2 separate regions of the Homo sapiens genome follow, and region 1 is linked to region 2. Evidence: fine-mapped expression QTL. Tissue or cell type: whole blood. Region 2 holds a variant in brackets; the other region holds the start of a gene. All regions are shown on one strand. Distances are between the middles of the regions.

Region 1 (8,000 bases), 360 kb after region 2:
AATTTAAGGTTTGCTGGTTTTAATTTTTCTTTTGATTGTTTAAAAAATTGTGGGGTGGTGTTGGAAAGGGGCAAAGAGAAGGAATGACGCAATTTTGTCATTTGTGGGGTAAACAAGAAAATTGAAGTTAAAACTGTGAAACTGAATCCCTGATACATGAACATTCACACATAAACATATCTAGACACATAATTTGTTGTCAGATGTTTCATGGTTAAAATACCCGGGATTCCCAACAATGCCCAGACACTGCAGTCTCTTCCACATCACGTAGCGATGCAGCACTTTCCTCCTCAACATTTTCACAACGCAGCTTCTTTCTGTGCAGGTTTCCTACCCCTTGGGCTACTTAAAAATCCACCCCTAAAACTGCATTACATTTTATCCACTTATCCATCCTCCTCTTTCCTCACAAACTATATCTTTCTAAAGATAAATTCCCTCTGGGTACAACTATGTTGCTGAGGAAAAGGGGAGACCATCAATTATCTGTCATCTTCTGGAAAAACCACACTTTAACATCAAATACAGTTCCTGAGACCCTATTAGCATTAGGTAAACTGCAAAAACAACAGTAAAAAGTAACATAAGAACAAAACTTTAATCAAAAGGAAAACTATCCCTGGGAAGTACTGAATTTGAAAGATTCCAAGCCCTTCCCAACTCAAAGAGTAGAAACACATGCCTCCATTTTAAATCATCTTTCATTTGTAAAAATACATATATGTTTCATGGAAAAAACACATTTCCATCAAGCTAGAGGGAGGATTGCTATTTTGCATCTTTTTTGCAATGCACATTCTCCAACAGATAATCCACGTGTGAAGTTTTTTTGCCCTCCTTCCACACAAATCTGTTATTACCTTTTTCTTTCTTTTTAACTTTTAATTGTATTGTTTTGTTTTAATGCCCAGATAGCACAGCATTCCTCCTTTACTTGCCTTTTCACAAGCCCGTAATCAATATCTGTAAAAGTTAAAATTAGTTTCCACAGAAACATTGATTTCAAAGCAAACACTATCTTAATGAGCCTAACTCTGGTAAATTAAAAATATAAATGGCACTATTAAGAGAGGCCAAGGAAACAATACGTAATATTTAGCAGGATCTCTAATATTCTAATTTCAGAAGTGTTAAACTGTGTAACAGTTACAGGACCTATCTTTCATAGGCAAAAACAGATCCGTGCCTCAGTTTCCACATTTATGAAATGTGGCTGAAAAATTATTTTAAGATCATTGTAGTTCTCTAATTCACTTAATTTTTATGTCATTAAGATGGAGTAAAAAGAGGATTTGGGGCATTATTAGGTTTCCTCTTTTGTGGGGAGGCATTATTTGGTGAGAATCACCATTTAAAAATGCAAAATATTGTGTCACTGGCTTAAGCTGCAGATTCCTAGGCCAGAGGCAATCAATACATCATGATGTAATGTAGTCATATAGACTAGGACACTTAGATTAGCCCCCGTGACGCAAGGCGTGTTCTGAGTAACAGTCTCAAATTAAGTGGAGACTTTGTGATCACTGCACAAAAGGTGTTGGAAATTTTAAGATATCATTAGCATCACACTTGACTTAAAGTAGTACTGAGATAGCATTCACAGAAAAGATTCTAGACTTTTCCAGATTTATACTTTGAAATCAAGTTATACGCATACTAATATCCCAACAGCATAATTCTGCCTTTAAAAGTTTTAGACAAGACAGCAACACATGTACCATTTAATTACTGAAATTGCAAATGCATAAACACCAAAGACACTTATTTTGACTTAATTAGTAATTTTCTGCTTTTATAAATCTGGACCCAGGAGAACAAAGTCATGACCTATGCAAAAAGAGCAAACCAAAAGCCACCAAAGGAAAATAAATAAGAACAGCCTTTTATTATTTTCTTTATACTCAAGCTGTTTTGTTGAAATGTGACCACGAACTAGGTCTTAACCTAGCAAATTCACAAATTTATTCAGATAGCCAAATTATCAAGGAAGTGGAAAACTTCCATTTTTAATTAATGCTGTGTAATTCTTTTGGTCATTTCATTACATTTTTTTCCCCCAAAACAGCACCTTAAGAAAAAAAAGGAGGAAAGGCCATCTCCTTATAGTTAACCTTTTTTTATTTTATTATTATTTTTTTAATCAGAGGAAAAATCGCAATCAAAAAAAGAAAACCCAAAACCAAACAACTAAATGTCACTTGATAAACAACTAATTAATGTCTTTTTATCTCTTCCCACCTGGAGGAAAAGTCTCCTTAGAGCACTCTCAATCCCCCCTCCCACCTTGAGGAGGACAAAAAAAAAAAAAAAAAAAAAAAGAAACCACGCCATTTCCAGACCAAGAAGCCATTTACAGACAAATGTCATTCTCCAGTTTTATCTGATTTGTGAATGTCTTTGTTTTTTCTTTTCACAAAGCACTCTCAATGTGGCCAGCCAGCAGGAAAATGTGTTTTTTTTAATGGTTTATTAAAATAGTGTTGGGGGGGCGCTGCTCGTGGTGGGTGGGGGGGGCAGCTGCTACAATTAATTCTCCGCTCTGCTTTTGAAAAAGCCTGCAAGTCTGGAAGGGGAAAAAAAGGTCACACTGTAAAATGACGTGTCATTTGGCTTCACTGGGCACTTCTCGTACTAACTCTATCCATTTTTTGGTGTTGGGGGGTGGTCTTATTTTATTTGACTCTCCTTCTCCTCCTTCCACGGCCCGGCCTGGCCCGGGACACGTCTGCTCCGCGCACACACAGTCAGTCGGTCCTGCCCGAAACGCACCAAGTCGCGCCCAGCGGCAACCGCCCTCCCTCCTCCCCTCGCCGCCCCCCTCCCGACTCCGGCGCCACGACTCCCTTGCGCCCCCTCCCCCCCACTGCACCACCTTTACCGCTCCGATCCTTTCCGAGGGGCTGATGTCACCAGCCCCCCCACTCTCCTCGGCCACTTCTCCCCGCCAAAGCCTCCCTTTGGCGAGGCCCCCTCCGCCACCACGGCGCCCCCCAGCGTCACCCCCTCCTCTCCTCGCCCCTTTCTTCCCCTCTTTCCCTCTCCCAACAAATCTCACACCCCACGGAGGCGGGTCCCCCTCCCTCTACCCGCCACCCGGTTTCCTGTCCCCGAAACCCTCTTTTTGTCGCAGTCTCCGGAGCCCCATGGGCTCCCCCTCCCCCTCCCCAACACGCACCCAAACCCCTGGCGTCGTGTAGGCCTCGCGGAAAAAGAGAGAAAGAGAGAAAGAGGGGGAGAGCGAGAGCGAGAGCAAGAGAGAGACACTGAGCGGGCAGGCCGGGGGAGGGGGACCCGCGCCCGCGTCGCCACGGCCCCCCGCCCCGTTTTTGAGCCCCCGCCCGGCCGAATCCGCGCCCCTGGGTCCCCCTTCCGGCCTCGCCCCCCACAGACAGAGCCCGCGAACGGGCGGGGGGCTCGGGAGCGCGCGCCCGGGGCGGGGGGCGGGCTCGGCGCGCGCGGCCTGCGGGGCGCCCTTCGAGGGCCCCCGGGCCGGGGCCGGCGCCCCCCGCCCGCCCTTACCCAGCAGCAGCAGGCGGTGCGTGGCCCGGTAGACCTGCTTGTCCTTCTGCAGCTGCTTCTCGATCTTTTTGTTGGCCTCACGCTGCGCCTTCTCCTCGTTGCGCTGGTCCTCGGTCTTACTGTTCCCGAGGCAGCCCATGGCGGCGGCGGCGGCGGCGGGGCGCGGCCGGGCTGCGGCGGCGGCGGGCGCGGGCGGCCTCACGCGGGCCGGGAGGGCCGGGGCAGCGCCGGGCGGGCGGGCCGGGCGCGGGCTCGGCTCCTCGGCAAGGAGCGCGCGGGGCGGACTGCGGGCCGCGGGCCGCGGGGCGCGCGGACGGGCGGGAAGGGGAGGGTGTCGGTCGGACCGAGGGGCGCGCGCAGCTCCCCGCCCCTCGAGCCGAGGCCGAGGGGGCTGATGGCCGCCGCCGGGCCGAGGCGGACCAGAGCAGGAGCTGCGGGAGCTGCTGCCGCCGCTGCCGCCGCCGCCGCTCTTATTGCCTCGGCCGGGCCCCCGCCGCCGCCCCGAGCCAAAAGCGCCGCGGCGGGCGGGGGGAGGCGGGGGGAGGAGGAGGCGGCGGCGGCGAGGGGGGTGGAAGGAGGAGGAGGAGGAGGAGGGCCGAGGAGCGGCCGCGGCGGCGGCGGCGGCTGGGAGGGCGGGAGCCGGCGGAGGGAGGCGGCCCCCCGGGAGCCCGGGGAGGGGGTCCCTCCGCCCGCGCCCGGCCGGGGACGGGACGGGCCGGGGAGACGCCCCCCACCCCCCGGGCTCGGGCAGCAGCCCGGCTGAGCCGAGGGGGGAGAGGGGGCGTCTCCGCGCCAGTGACGACCCCTCGCACGACGCCAACGCTCCACCCCCCGGACCGCGTCGCCCGGCGCCCCCGAGGCCTCCTCCCCCTCCCGCGGGCGCCGCCGAGGGGCTGGGGTGGGCGGAAGGGGAGGGAGCGCGCGCCCGGACTTAGGAAAATTTTCGAAAGAGCGAGAGACACAGAGAGCCAGAGAGCAGGAGTGTGGAAAAAGCGAGGCGAGCACGAACCAAAGGACAGAGCAACCGAAAAGGAAAATGTGTCCACACACACACACGAACACGAATAAAAACCCACACTACACAGCGATGGTGGTGTCTGGTGGCGGTGGCGGGGTGGGGGGTCTGACTAGATGAGCCGCTCCTCGCGCCCCCGGCGCCGGGCGCCATGGCCCGAGCCGAAGGCGCCTCTGGCCCCGGAGCGCCCGCGGCCTCTGCGCTTGGCGCGGCCGCCCAAGTAGGAGAAGAAGGCGCAGCCCAGGAACACTCGGAAGCAGCAGGTCGCCCCGAACACGAAGCCGCAGCCGCGGCCCTGCTCCGTGCGCTTCTGCAGCAGGAAGTTGAGCACCCACGAGGGGCTGCGCACCGAGAAGACCAGGAACACCACGAGGGGCAGGTGGGCGCTCAGCGCGCCAGCCTTGAGCGGCCCGGGCCGCCACACGATGCCCCCAACGCGCGGCGCCGCGTAGTAGGCGTCGTCCTCGTCGCTCGAGTCCGTGTCCCAGTCAGCCCAGGCCCTACTCGTGCCCCCGGCGGCGGCGCCCTCCTCGGCGCCCCCGACGGCGCCCTCCTCGGCGCCCTCGTCGTCGTCGGCGGCGGCCGCGGCGGCGGCGGCCTCGGGGCATCGGGCCTCCTCCTGGGCTTCTGGCACCTTCTTCTTCTTCTTCTTCAGCATCTTCTCCATCTTCTTCCTCTCCTTCTCCTTCTTCTTCTCCTCCTTTCGCCTCTGCTCCAGCAGCTTCTTCTCGAGCTTCTTGCGCTCCTTGTCTGTTAGGAACTTTTCGGGGAGCGCCTCCCGCGCCGGGTTCTTGGGGTTCTTCGCGAGCTTCTCGGGGTCCCCGCTCTTCCGCGGCGCGAGCGGCTCTCTCGGCTCGGCCAACGCCGCAGCCGCCGCCGCAGCTTCGGCAGCCACCTCGGCAGCCGCCGCGGCCGTCTTCTTCTCGCTCTCCGCCGCCCGGGCTTTGAGCTTCATGGCCATCTTCAGCATGGTGGCCCGGCCACCTCGGGGAGCTCGGCTCGCGCCTGGCCCGGGCTCCCTGCTTGCCCCCGGCCTCGGGCTGCCCGGCCCCCGTGCGCCCCGTGTCGGGGGGCTTGGCTGCGGTTCCCGCCGCGCTGCCCCGGGGCCGCGGAGCGCGGCTGCCCGGGCTTCGGGCTGCTGGGCTGGCTGCCTAAGAGTTAGCGCCAAAAAGGATGAGCAAACGAAAAAGGGACAAGAACAAACCAAAAAGCACCCAACAACAGCGAGAAACCAAAAAGCACCAAGAAATGTCAACTCAAAAAGAAAAGTGCAAAGGCGCGGATGGCAGGAGTCTGTTTACCCTCAGGCGCTCCTTGGTTTGGCTCTTGGGCACGCCAATGGAGAAGAGAAAAGAGAGAGAATTGGGGGGTGCCCGGAGGCGCCCCGGGGCAAGGCAGCGGCGCCCGGGCGCCCCTGCCTTGTCCCGGACCCGGCGGCTCTTGCCTGCGCCGGGCGACTCGCACTTCCGCGGGAGGCCCCGGCGCTCCCCGACTTACATGTGAGTGAGGTGCACTCACACGCAAGGCAGCGCCTGCCGGCCGCCCGCCGCCGCCCCGCGCCGGGACAGGGGCTCGCTCCAGCCGCCGCGCCGCAGCCCGGAGCCAGAGAGCAGGGGAGCGCCGCGCCGGCCAGCCACCTGACGCAGCCCGCTCCGCGGTGCCGACGCGACTGAGTGTCCCCGCCGGGGAGCAGAGCTTCTAACCGGCCCCGATGACGCCCCAGCCTCTTCAGAGGACCGACCCATAGCAGCGGCCCCTATAAACCGAAGGGGAAGCGCGAAAAATCGGCCCACCGGGGACGCACCCAAATGGGCCGCCGCGCACCCTGGGGGTGCAGGCCGGTGCCGGGACCGCGCGGGCGTGGGCCGGGGGCGCGGGGGCCGCGATGGCGGGGGGCGCGGGCGCGCCCAAGGCGGTGGGCGCTCAACCCCGCCTCCCAGACCTGCCTCCCAATTTTCGGTGAGTGGTGTAGCCCTGGGCGGCGTGCAAAGTGTGCGACGGCGGCGCTTACCCCTGCTGTGCGCCTCCTTACCTCCAGCCACCCACCCCGCCCTCCCAGCGGCGCGCGCCCGCCGAGGTAGGTGTCAGAGAGCCGAATTCGAATTATTTGCGACGCCCGGACGGAGTTTCGTATCTTCGGACGAGAAAAGTGCGATGGGAGTGCAAAGCCTCCCCTGCTCGAAGCAGCAGGCGCGCCGGTGTCACGGGAGCCGAGGAGCGGTGGCCGTGGCTGTGGAGTCGGTGCTCGAGGCGTCCTCCCAGGTGGGAGAGGTGGCGGCCTTGCCTGGGCGCCCTGGGGGCTCTGGAACAGAGGGAAAAGTAGTTTACGGAACGTGAACTTGTTTGAGGGTTCTTTCAAAACTCTCAAGTGTCCCGCCGCACACTAGGATATAGCAGTGCACGGGATTAGGAGCAGGGTTACTAAATTTTCAAGCAGTTGACCCCAGCCCGCCTTTCCTGGGACCTTGGTTAGGTCATCTGCTGCCACCATGGTGTCTGCTGGGATACGGTTTATTCATTCAATAAATGTTTGGTGCCTGCCAGTTCCGCGGCTCACCATGTGCCCAGGTGAGCCGAGGCGGCCAGGTAATCAGGCTAAGACGTGAGCAGTGTCTTGGATGGGACACAGGCCTACGTCCCGGAAAGCCCAGATATGCAAAGTCCACAAACTGTCTTCCAACTTTTTCTTTGACTTCTTAACAGAGCCCATGAAACTTAAGATGTTTGATGGAGAAGGAGAAAAAAGAAAAGTCTACCTATAAATGGAAACACATTTAACAGTCCCCAGGGGTATGGGGCGGCTGATACCACCAGAGGCCTTGAGCAAACTTGTATCATTTTAAGTTAGCTTTGAAAATAAAAAGACACTGTTAGCCATTCAACCGGATGACTGAAATTCCCCCCTTTTCCCCAGTTTGCTCCACTTCGAGTAAGAAAAGGTGTGACAGATGAAGATGCCACATATTATTTTTCTTGGCCCCTTCAGGTACACTGCTGCCCCCATTGTACAAGGCCTCTTTTTTATGAATCTGAAAAGACAACAGAGGGCGATTCAAAGTCACCAAACAACACTTGGAATTAAGAACAGGAAGCGCAGCCTAGACACCGTCCTGCCCTGGGCTGCTGCAGACCCCTGACTTTCTTGAACTTGGCTGAAAAGTTGGGGCCAGGTTTTTGTCACACTCCTGATCATGGATGGCCTCTCTTCCACACAAAAATACACCTTATTTTGAAAATGCTCAAAGGAACTATCCTAGGTTGATGCTTTTCACCTAACCAAAGATGCATAAAAATATTGTGCAGATACACCTGAATGTGCTCATAGGAGAACTCAGCAGTAAGGCCTCAGAATCGATGATTCCTAGGCTGCCTGTACTAGTGATAGTGAGGCTCACTACCATCCACCACCTAAATTAGAACCGCTTGATGACACAGCACAGGTTCTATATCTTTAGATGGTAAA
Region 2 (8,260 bases):
ATCACCCATAGAGCCAGGCAGGTCATATTCTCCTCACCATATTAAATTATGTCTGGGGAGTTGAGCAGCAGCACATTCCGATAATGATGACAGTTTCCATAACTATAAAGATCTGCTGCACCAGGCAAATTCTGTGCAAAATGCAAATTTCTGTGCTGGGGAAAAAAATGAATAATGTGATCATTCTAAGTAATGAATGTAAATGCAAGGAAATACTTTTTGGCATGAGACTGCAAATTGTTTATCTTTCATGCCAAGAACTGTGGTCACAGTGCACTTCTGCAAGGTTCCTCTTCCGGTCTCAGCTTTAGAAGAGTGATTTCAGGAAGAAAAAGTCTGTCTTGCCCTAGGTTACCCACCATGCTATTGGCAGTGTTTCCATTAAAATTCAGAGACACCCTCCTCCATCTTTTTTTTTAATCACTTGGCAAATGAACCATAGGTTCTCCTGGTTACTGTGAGATGTGAACCAAAGGGGATTATTAGCTTTGTCTCAAATCTCAAGGGTTAAGCCTAACAGGAGAGATGAGCTGTTTTTCAATGTGTTTTACAAGAAGGAGGATTCCAGTTGTCCACCAAAAATCACATGACTTTGAGTCACTTAACAATGTAGGTTGCCAAGGAGGGAAGGATTGAAACCTCTTCCCTCCATACATCTTTAACGACAAGATCTAGCTGGGTGTAGGTACAGGTGGAGAGAGAAACCTGGTGAGTCTTGAACATCATGGGGAAATGTCACTTTTGATATTGGCAAAAAAAAATTCAGTGCCCTTCCCTTAGTTCATGACAGCATCCCTCTAACTATTCTCTGTGGAAGAAACTGAGGCATCAGTTGGTTAAGACCCTTACCTAAAGATATAATAAAATTAACACTGGGAAAATTAGCACTGGGGAAAGAAGGAAATCCCTGATCTTTAAACTCTGGTTTGCTTTGTTCTAAAATAAATTTGTTTTTCCTTAACCATCATGCAGTACACACTTGCAGAGTATAAAACTGTGGTAGTTATCAATTGATAATACTGACATTTTATTTTTAGTAACCCAAACTGGGTTCTAGGTTGTTAATGTTACCCTTAAAATGTATTCTTATAATTGTATTTCACTTTAAGAAAACCCATAGGAAAATTAAGATTTATAAAATCAGAGATTGTTCATTGCTTTATAAAAAGATTCTTCATTTAAAAAAAATCTTTACCTTAGGATGCTTTTAAAGAGCCAGCTCCCTTAGGGTCATTCAAAATACATTTTTAATTTTTAAAAAATCCATTGACATACAGCTTTTTCACAAATTCATGTTGATATAAAGTAAGGTACACTTGTAAACATTGCCAGCCACTAGGCAAAGACCAGGGAAGCAAGGTGGCTTCGCTACCTGCTTTACCTTTGTAAGAGATACAGGGAGTTAGAGACGAAATCAATATTCCGCCATATTTGACCTAGGTTGGGATGTGACAGCTGGCAACGGTGGCTCCTATAGGGACAGAGCTTCCACCATCATCCTGAAGTTGGTGCTGTTTGGAGCTATGACTTACTGATTTACAGCCAGTGACCCCGTTGATTCCACAGTAGCCACCCAGAAAGGAGGGGTCTGGAAGACAGCTTTTTTCCCCTGACCAGTGCCTCCTAAGACAAAGGAGCCAGTTCAGCCTACAGATAGGTTTTCTCCATTCCTACTGGAGAGTTCTGGTTTTGCTTTTAATTTTTTGAACTATGAGCCACATGTATAGGCTGGATGATTGCACCCTAAAATCTGGAACTCTGGGGAAAAAATTAGATGGAGCTTCTTCAGGCTCAGGTTCTTCACAGCAATAATTGGTGGAAGGTGCTTGTGTTTCAGTTCCTCACTGTCCCCACCCAAACTTCTTGCATGCAAGGCCTCCGTGGCAATGGTTCCCCATGGGGAATATCTTCAAGCCATTGAGTCCATGCATTTTAAGGAGAGAGCAGCTTCTCTATCAACCATTCTCAGAAAAATTGGAACCTGGAGATACATTCGTCTTGTCCAACTCTCTTATTCTCACTTAGGGAAACTAAGGTACAGAAAGACTCTTAACCAAGATTTCCCAGCTAAAGTCAGGACTTCAATCTCCATCCAAGGCTCAGACCATTTGCCTACACTGCCTCTCTCATTACAGTGGCATGAATCCTTCGAAAAGGGAGATAATCACCACATCGCTTTTGTTGGGTTTAAAAAGTACACTAAGTCAATGTCCAACATCCTTTTTACCTCCCTTCTTATGTTTTTCTTGGCTGGGCCTGAAATCCTTGGATATTTATGAGTGCATATGAAATGGTCACAAATATATGCTAAGTAACCAGGGAAGCTGGTCTGGCATTGAAGTTTTCTATGAAAAACACCAAAATTGGAAAATTCACATGAAGATACTTGAAATTTGACCATACTTAGTCACAGGCACAGACTGACTGAAGTGTATTCACATGTGTGAGATGCTCTGCATTGCTGCTGTGTCTCTGAAGTACAAGATGTCATATGAACATCATTACATCAAAGTTACACCAAAAGAGCTCAGCTACAAATTTCAAATTGTACAAAATCATACCAAAAGCAAGTATAAAATTTTATTGAAATGCAGCAATGTAAACCTCTTTAAGTTTCTCCTCTCCCGTGGAAGGAGAGGGAGAGGAAGGCAGTGGAACTGAGGCTTTGCCCCCCGGGCTGGCTGACGTAGATCTGTTTTCTTCTGCACAGGGGCGCACCGGCTTGGAATACTGGGGAATTTTCTCTGTGCAGTTCTGACGTGCACAATACAGAGGCTGATTTAATTTGACAGCAAAGTAACACTAAGCCCCGAAAATAAAATTACCGAGATGTAAAACAGCGTCAAAACTCCAATTAGTTTTGTATCCTTGAAGCTTCTGAAGGAAATCTAAAAGGCTCCCGTCACGACGAGCAGGCATCAGTTGAAGCTGTACAGATTACTAAAATGTAACCCTCTAATTGAAATTGCTCAGAGCACAATATGACAAGAAGAATCAGAGGAAAATAAGTGAATTTTTCCCTCTCAAAAAATGACTCATTACAGAGAGACAGTTCTATTAACTTTTAACACCGTTCCTTTGCAAGAACTAGAAAAACCGACAGTCTCAGAGATCTCCACAGCAAACGCACCAGGCACAAGAGCATGTGCTTGCATCATCTGACCATAAATAAGCATTGACCATTTGTGCAACATTTAAAAGTAATCAGCATGTCACCGGATCATAGGCATTTTGAAGTGTATTTACAACTCCACCAAGGACGTGAATTACTCTGAACAAGCTTCAGTTTTTTAATGTATCTGAATTTTGTCTCCAAAATGAACAGAAGTATCTTTGTGCCCAGTTCACACCCCCGTCTCTTTGTCAAGCTACTCCAATTATCCCAAGTGTGCTCTCCACCTTGGAAGCAAATCCTCAGTTTACTAATGGAGAAAGCCAGTTGCCTCGACTGTGTGGGGTCCACTTGTGGAGAAATGTGTTGATGGTGGCTTTCTTGGTTAGTGCCATTTGATTGCAGAGAGGCAGTGGGGGACAGGTGCAGAAGACGAGGCTGGGAGTCAAGGCCCAGTCACTGTGCACGTTGACCATTTGCAGAGTTTGCTTCCTTGCCATGTCTGCCCTGCCTGGCACCATTTGAAGATGAGCAGAGCACTCCCAAGGGGAGCTGGGGAACGCTGCGGCTGAGTTGGGGGTCAGAAGTTGGTTGGAGTTGGCTTGTAAATAACTCAAAATGGCTTTCCTAATCTGTAGGTGTTTCACAGATAGAGTTTAGTTCTTCCGCCAGCCTGACAACATTTACTTGTGAAGCGTCAACAGTCTTTTTGACCAGACACCATGTTTCTCTGGAAGCTTCATATTTCTATAACTAATCGGTCTTCATCGTCGCTGCTGGTGTCACTGAACTCTACTCGAGTTTGCTTTCTCATTCCTTCCAGACTCCTCTTCTTGAGGGATTTAGAAGGGGCTTCAGGAATTTCTATGGGCTGCTCTGGCTTAGAAGGAACCACAGAATCTTTCCGAGTGATTAATCCAGATACCTGACGTTTCCTACCGTCACTTCCTAAAGAGGGGCAGGGGACAGTCATTTCCCCACACCCATACTGGCCTCTGGAAGGAAAAAACGTCTTGTGTCTCCCTTCCTTGTGGTGTGAACTAGCTGAACTTGGTCCTGAAGCTGGTATTTCAAGATGAGTTTTTTCAGTTGACTCCAGTGGAACCGAATCTGAAATTCTTTGTCCAGATGAAGGTCTCCCTGGCAAGAGGGTCTGTGCTCTGCCCTCTTCTGTGACTTTGCTGTCTGGGGAGCTTGATGTCAGAGTCCTCCCTGCAGTCTGGCTGTGGTCTCGTGATTCAGCACTGTGAATTTCCTGGGCTATGTGATCTGTTCTCACTGGCAGAGAAATACAAACGGCAGCCACAGAGGTAGCAATGTCATGGTGGGGAAAAGTTCCTTTGGACCCAAAGGAAGAAGGCCTTTGAGCATCTGAGAAGATGTATGGTTTGGGATCTGTTGAGACTGAATCCTGGGAGGCCAGCAGCTGAGTCTCCAGCAACCCAAGGTCAAGACCTTTGCCAGGGGGTAGAGGCACGTCATTAACCACTGCCAGGCAGGTGTCAGATTGCAGAGATAATCCTGATGTGGCAGCAGTGCTGTGAGTAGTACAGTCACCATGCTCACCAGCAGATGGAGAAATATCCTGCAACAAAGTGCAAAGGAAAAAAAAAGTGGGGGGGGAGGTTAATTGGTACAAAGAAAAATGTGGTCAGAAACGTGGTCCTCAATGAAAACAGGTCTTGAGGTCTTAATGATTCTTTACCAAGGGTGAACTTCAATATGACGCCCTCAATAAGTTTCCATTAATAACTAATTGGTGCATTAACTCGAATAAAGCTCCTGATTGATACAAAATAGGTTGCTGACGTCCTGTGCTTTTATCTGGCTTTGTGAAAAACAAAACCACTCAATTATCTTACCAGTTCTCAGCTTCCTTTTTTAAGTCACTACCGCTCATGAAGCGGATGTACTATTTTATAGGACTGTGTATTGAAGGGTTTTTTGGTTTTTT[G/T]GTTTTTTCCGGATGAGTGTTTTTCCAAATGTGGTCTGGATACATATTTTAGTGGTTTTCAACACGCAGCCCCACAGTCTGTCTGGGGGGGCTTCATGTTGCAGTGGCATCTGTCAGCCATCTCTCTATTCAGGTGTGCAGTAATAACATACTTGGGGTTTTTTTTAAAGAAACCATCAGAAATCATCCCAATGTTTGCACTACCAAAGCTACTCATTCGATACAGAATGTTTTGAGTTATTTGTTTGTCTTAATGGGCTTTCTGTGCCACGAATCTTCATAAGGTGATCCGAGCAAGTTCTGCCACACTGAACAAGAGCAGCAAGAACAAGCAGGGCTATACATCTAGACCAGGAATAGGTAGAGGCAGCTCAAAATCATCATGCCCACCTTCACAGTTCGTTTGTCCATTTCCCTGACAATTCTTGAACTTGTACCAAGAGAGAGGGTTCCTAAGGTTTGTCTGCAGTCACCTTCCTTCTTCTCTTCCTTCCCACAACAAGGAGGTGATTCTGAGGTGGCACAAGATGGCTCCTCTTGCAGATTCAGACCTGCAAGGGGAGAGGCACATTTACATATGACTGGAATTATAAAATTAGCAAAGAGTAATTTCCTGGGAGGTTGTCCATGACTTCTTGATCGCCTCTGAGCTCATTAACCCTCATCTCACAGGGTGTGTGCAAGAACTCAATTTATCTCCAACCAATTCACATTTGGTCAAATAAAATATATCCACTCTATGAAGGAAGGAAATGGCAAAACCAATTCTCAAAGTAGAAAAACCCCTGAATGATACATATCATAAAATATATCTATATTTCATGTTGCTTCTTCTCATCAGAGTTGTATTCCTGGTCATGTCTGTTTAGGTAAATTTTAGATCAGCTTGAATTCTCTGACATACTACCAAGTAGTCAGAATAGACGTTTCACTCGATGCATGGTGGGAACCCAGAAATATAAACCAGGTCTTAATTCCCACTAGAGTGCTGGGCAGCAAGGGATGAGGTTGGCTTTTGTGATGCTGTTGTTTTGTTGTGGTGGTTATTGTTGTGATTGTGGAAGGAAAGAAGGGCCCTGACAATATCCACAAAACAGCACTTCTCATACCTGTCTTTCCTTCATCCTTCACCCGCACTGATGACCTGGCATACCAGTCAAAAGGATCACAAAATTTCAGAGAGGGCAGGTTCCATCATGATATGAGATCAGAGAAATATCTTAAAACGACTGTGTCACTAGAGAAGAAGCACTAGACCCACTTTTAAATTTGCTTTTATTTTGATGAAAGGTACACATGTGCAGTCTGAAAAGTCAAGCCTAACTGTGTATTAAGAAAAACTGCAACCCCTGCCAACCCATCCATCTTTTCCCATTCGGGAGTCTTTTGACTTTTAGCTCCTTCATGTCTGATAACATTGTTATAGAACTACATTTTGTGGAAGTAGTAGCTGTGACTTCTCATGGGGAGAGAGGAGGGTTTCCCTCTTCTTCCAGCTCTCCTCCTCTTCAAACTTCATGACCCCCCACACAAGCACACATTCCACCTCTCTATCTTCTCAACAGTTCTCTAACCCCTATGGCCTGTTTTCATTTAGGCGAATATTCCATGTTTATATTAGTATGTTTAGGAGAATACCTGTCAGCACTGAATCTTGTAGTATACTACGATTACGTTGCCTTTCTTGTGAAAACTGCTTTCCCTGGGATTAATGACGATTTTGCTTTTTAAAAATTTTGCTGAGTTTTCTATGGACTCATTTCTAAAATCATTTTCCAACCACCTCTCCAATTGTCTGAGGTTTCATTTCATTCTGTGAGAAATGTTTCCTTGAAACTTTCTGATTTGCTCCAAGTGGACCATGTTTCTCTGCAGCATGGCTGTGCCCCTGGGGTCTCCCTTCATCCCCGCTGTGCTGATTCTCTTCGCCTCTTTCCTGGTTCCTGAACCTCTACAACTTCTTTTTTCTTGGTTTACACTCCTGCTTTCCTAACACAAAACTTCTAGTAGTTTCATGAGAAAGGGTACATGAAGTATAACTCTTTAGATGTCATTGGCAGCTTGGCTGGGTATGACATTCAAAATCGGAAATCATTTCCCTTTGGGGTTGCAGACACGGCTCTATTGCGTTCCAGTTGTTGAAAAGTCTGGAGACAATATGATTTATGATTCATGGTCCTTTGGATGAAATCTTTTTGTATGTCGTTCTCTGGAATCCCCGAGGCTCTTCTTTATTTCTGGTGTCACCACAGCCTGGGTCGATCTTCATTCATTGGCTGGGCACTCAATCAATTCTTTCAATCTGAATCATGTCCTCAGGTTTTAGAAAAATGTGGTTCTGTTTTTCTTTTTTCCTTTTCCTTCCTCATGTACAATGCATTGTTTTGAAATATACACACATTGTAGGTTGGCTAAATTAGATTATTAATAACATATGTATTAGCCCATAGGCTTATCTTTTTTTGGCAAGAACACTTATACTCTCAGCAATTTTTAAGAATACAAAACATTGTCATTAACTATAGTTACCATGTTGTACAATATAACTCTTGAACTTACCTGTTATTTCTGATTTTTTTTCCCTTCTGTTTTGTCTTCTCTCTCTTTCTAGAATTGCCCTTATTGGGTTATTGGATCTCCTAGTATAATCTTCTATTTTTCTTATCTTTTCGCTGTGATGTTCTGTTTCTTGGTCTTTTTGCTTCACTTTTGGGGGAATTTCCTCAACTTTATATTCCAATGAGTTTCTATTTCTGCTATTATGCTTTTAATTTCTAAGAGTTCTTTCCCATGTTCTTTTTTTATAGCATCCTGTTCTTACTTCATAGCTCTAACATCCTCTCTTTTACCCCCGGCAATGTTAATAATGGGTTGTTGTTGTTGTCGTTGTTGAAGTTTGCCTCCCCCTACATAGTCCCTCTTCCAAGTTCCTTTGTTTCCATTGGTTTGTTTTTATTTCTCTCTTTAGGTTGGTGGCTTTCCTGAGAAATACAGCAATCTTCGCTGCTTATGTTTAGGAAATGGGCACAAAAAAGCTGACTTGGTGTTCTTTACAAGTGCAATCTGTCAACCATGGGCCCTACTGTTAGGTTATGTGGTTGCCCTGTTTCAGTGGGAACCCTGAAGTAGTTATCTGCAGGTCTCCACGTGTACTGGTCAGCTTCTACAAGAAGAGTCCTCGGGTCTCCTGACTG

Evidence for each region. PIP is the estimated chance that this variant, and not a neighbour inherited with it, causes the effect.
Region 1: it holds the start of GNAS, and the variant in region 2 is fine-mapped to the expression of GNAS in whole blood (TOPMed, PIP 0.97).

The regions. Positions count from the first base shown.
Region 1 is chr20:58,887,388-58,895,387 of GRCh38, reverse strand. It overlaps GNAS (GNAS complex locus), which reads right to left and starts at 3,967. Exons shown (of 13, transcript NM_000516.7): 1 at 3,523-3,967. The coding sequence starts at 3,661. LOC101927932 (a long non-coding RNA gene) reads left to right here and starts at 6,578. Exons shown (of 5, transcript NR_126334.1): 1 at 6,578-6,614. RefSeq lists enhancers at 1-5, 6,630-6,849 and silencers at 2,810-2,899, 3,770-3,989, 4,000-4,499, 4,560-4,709, 5,910-6,189.
Region 2 is chr20:59,250,335-59,258,594 of GRCh38, reverse strand. ZNF831 (zinc finger protein 831) reads right to left here. Exons shown (of 6, transcript NM_178457.3): 5 at 5,457-5,617; 6 at 1-4,697. The coding sequence ends at 3,852. Among named protein-coding and RNA genes, the nearest start is that of EDN3, 46 kb to the left of the region's middle. The variant G/T (reference allele first, on the strand shown) is at 5,067.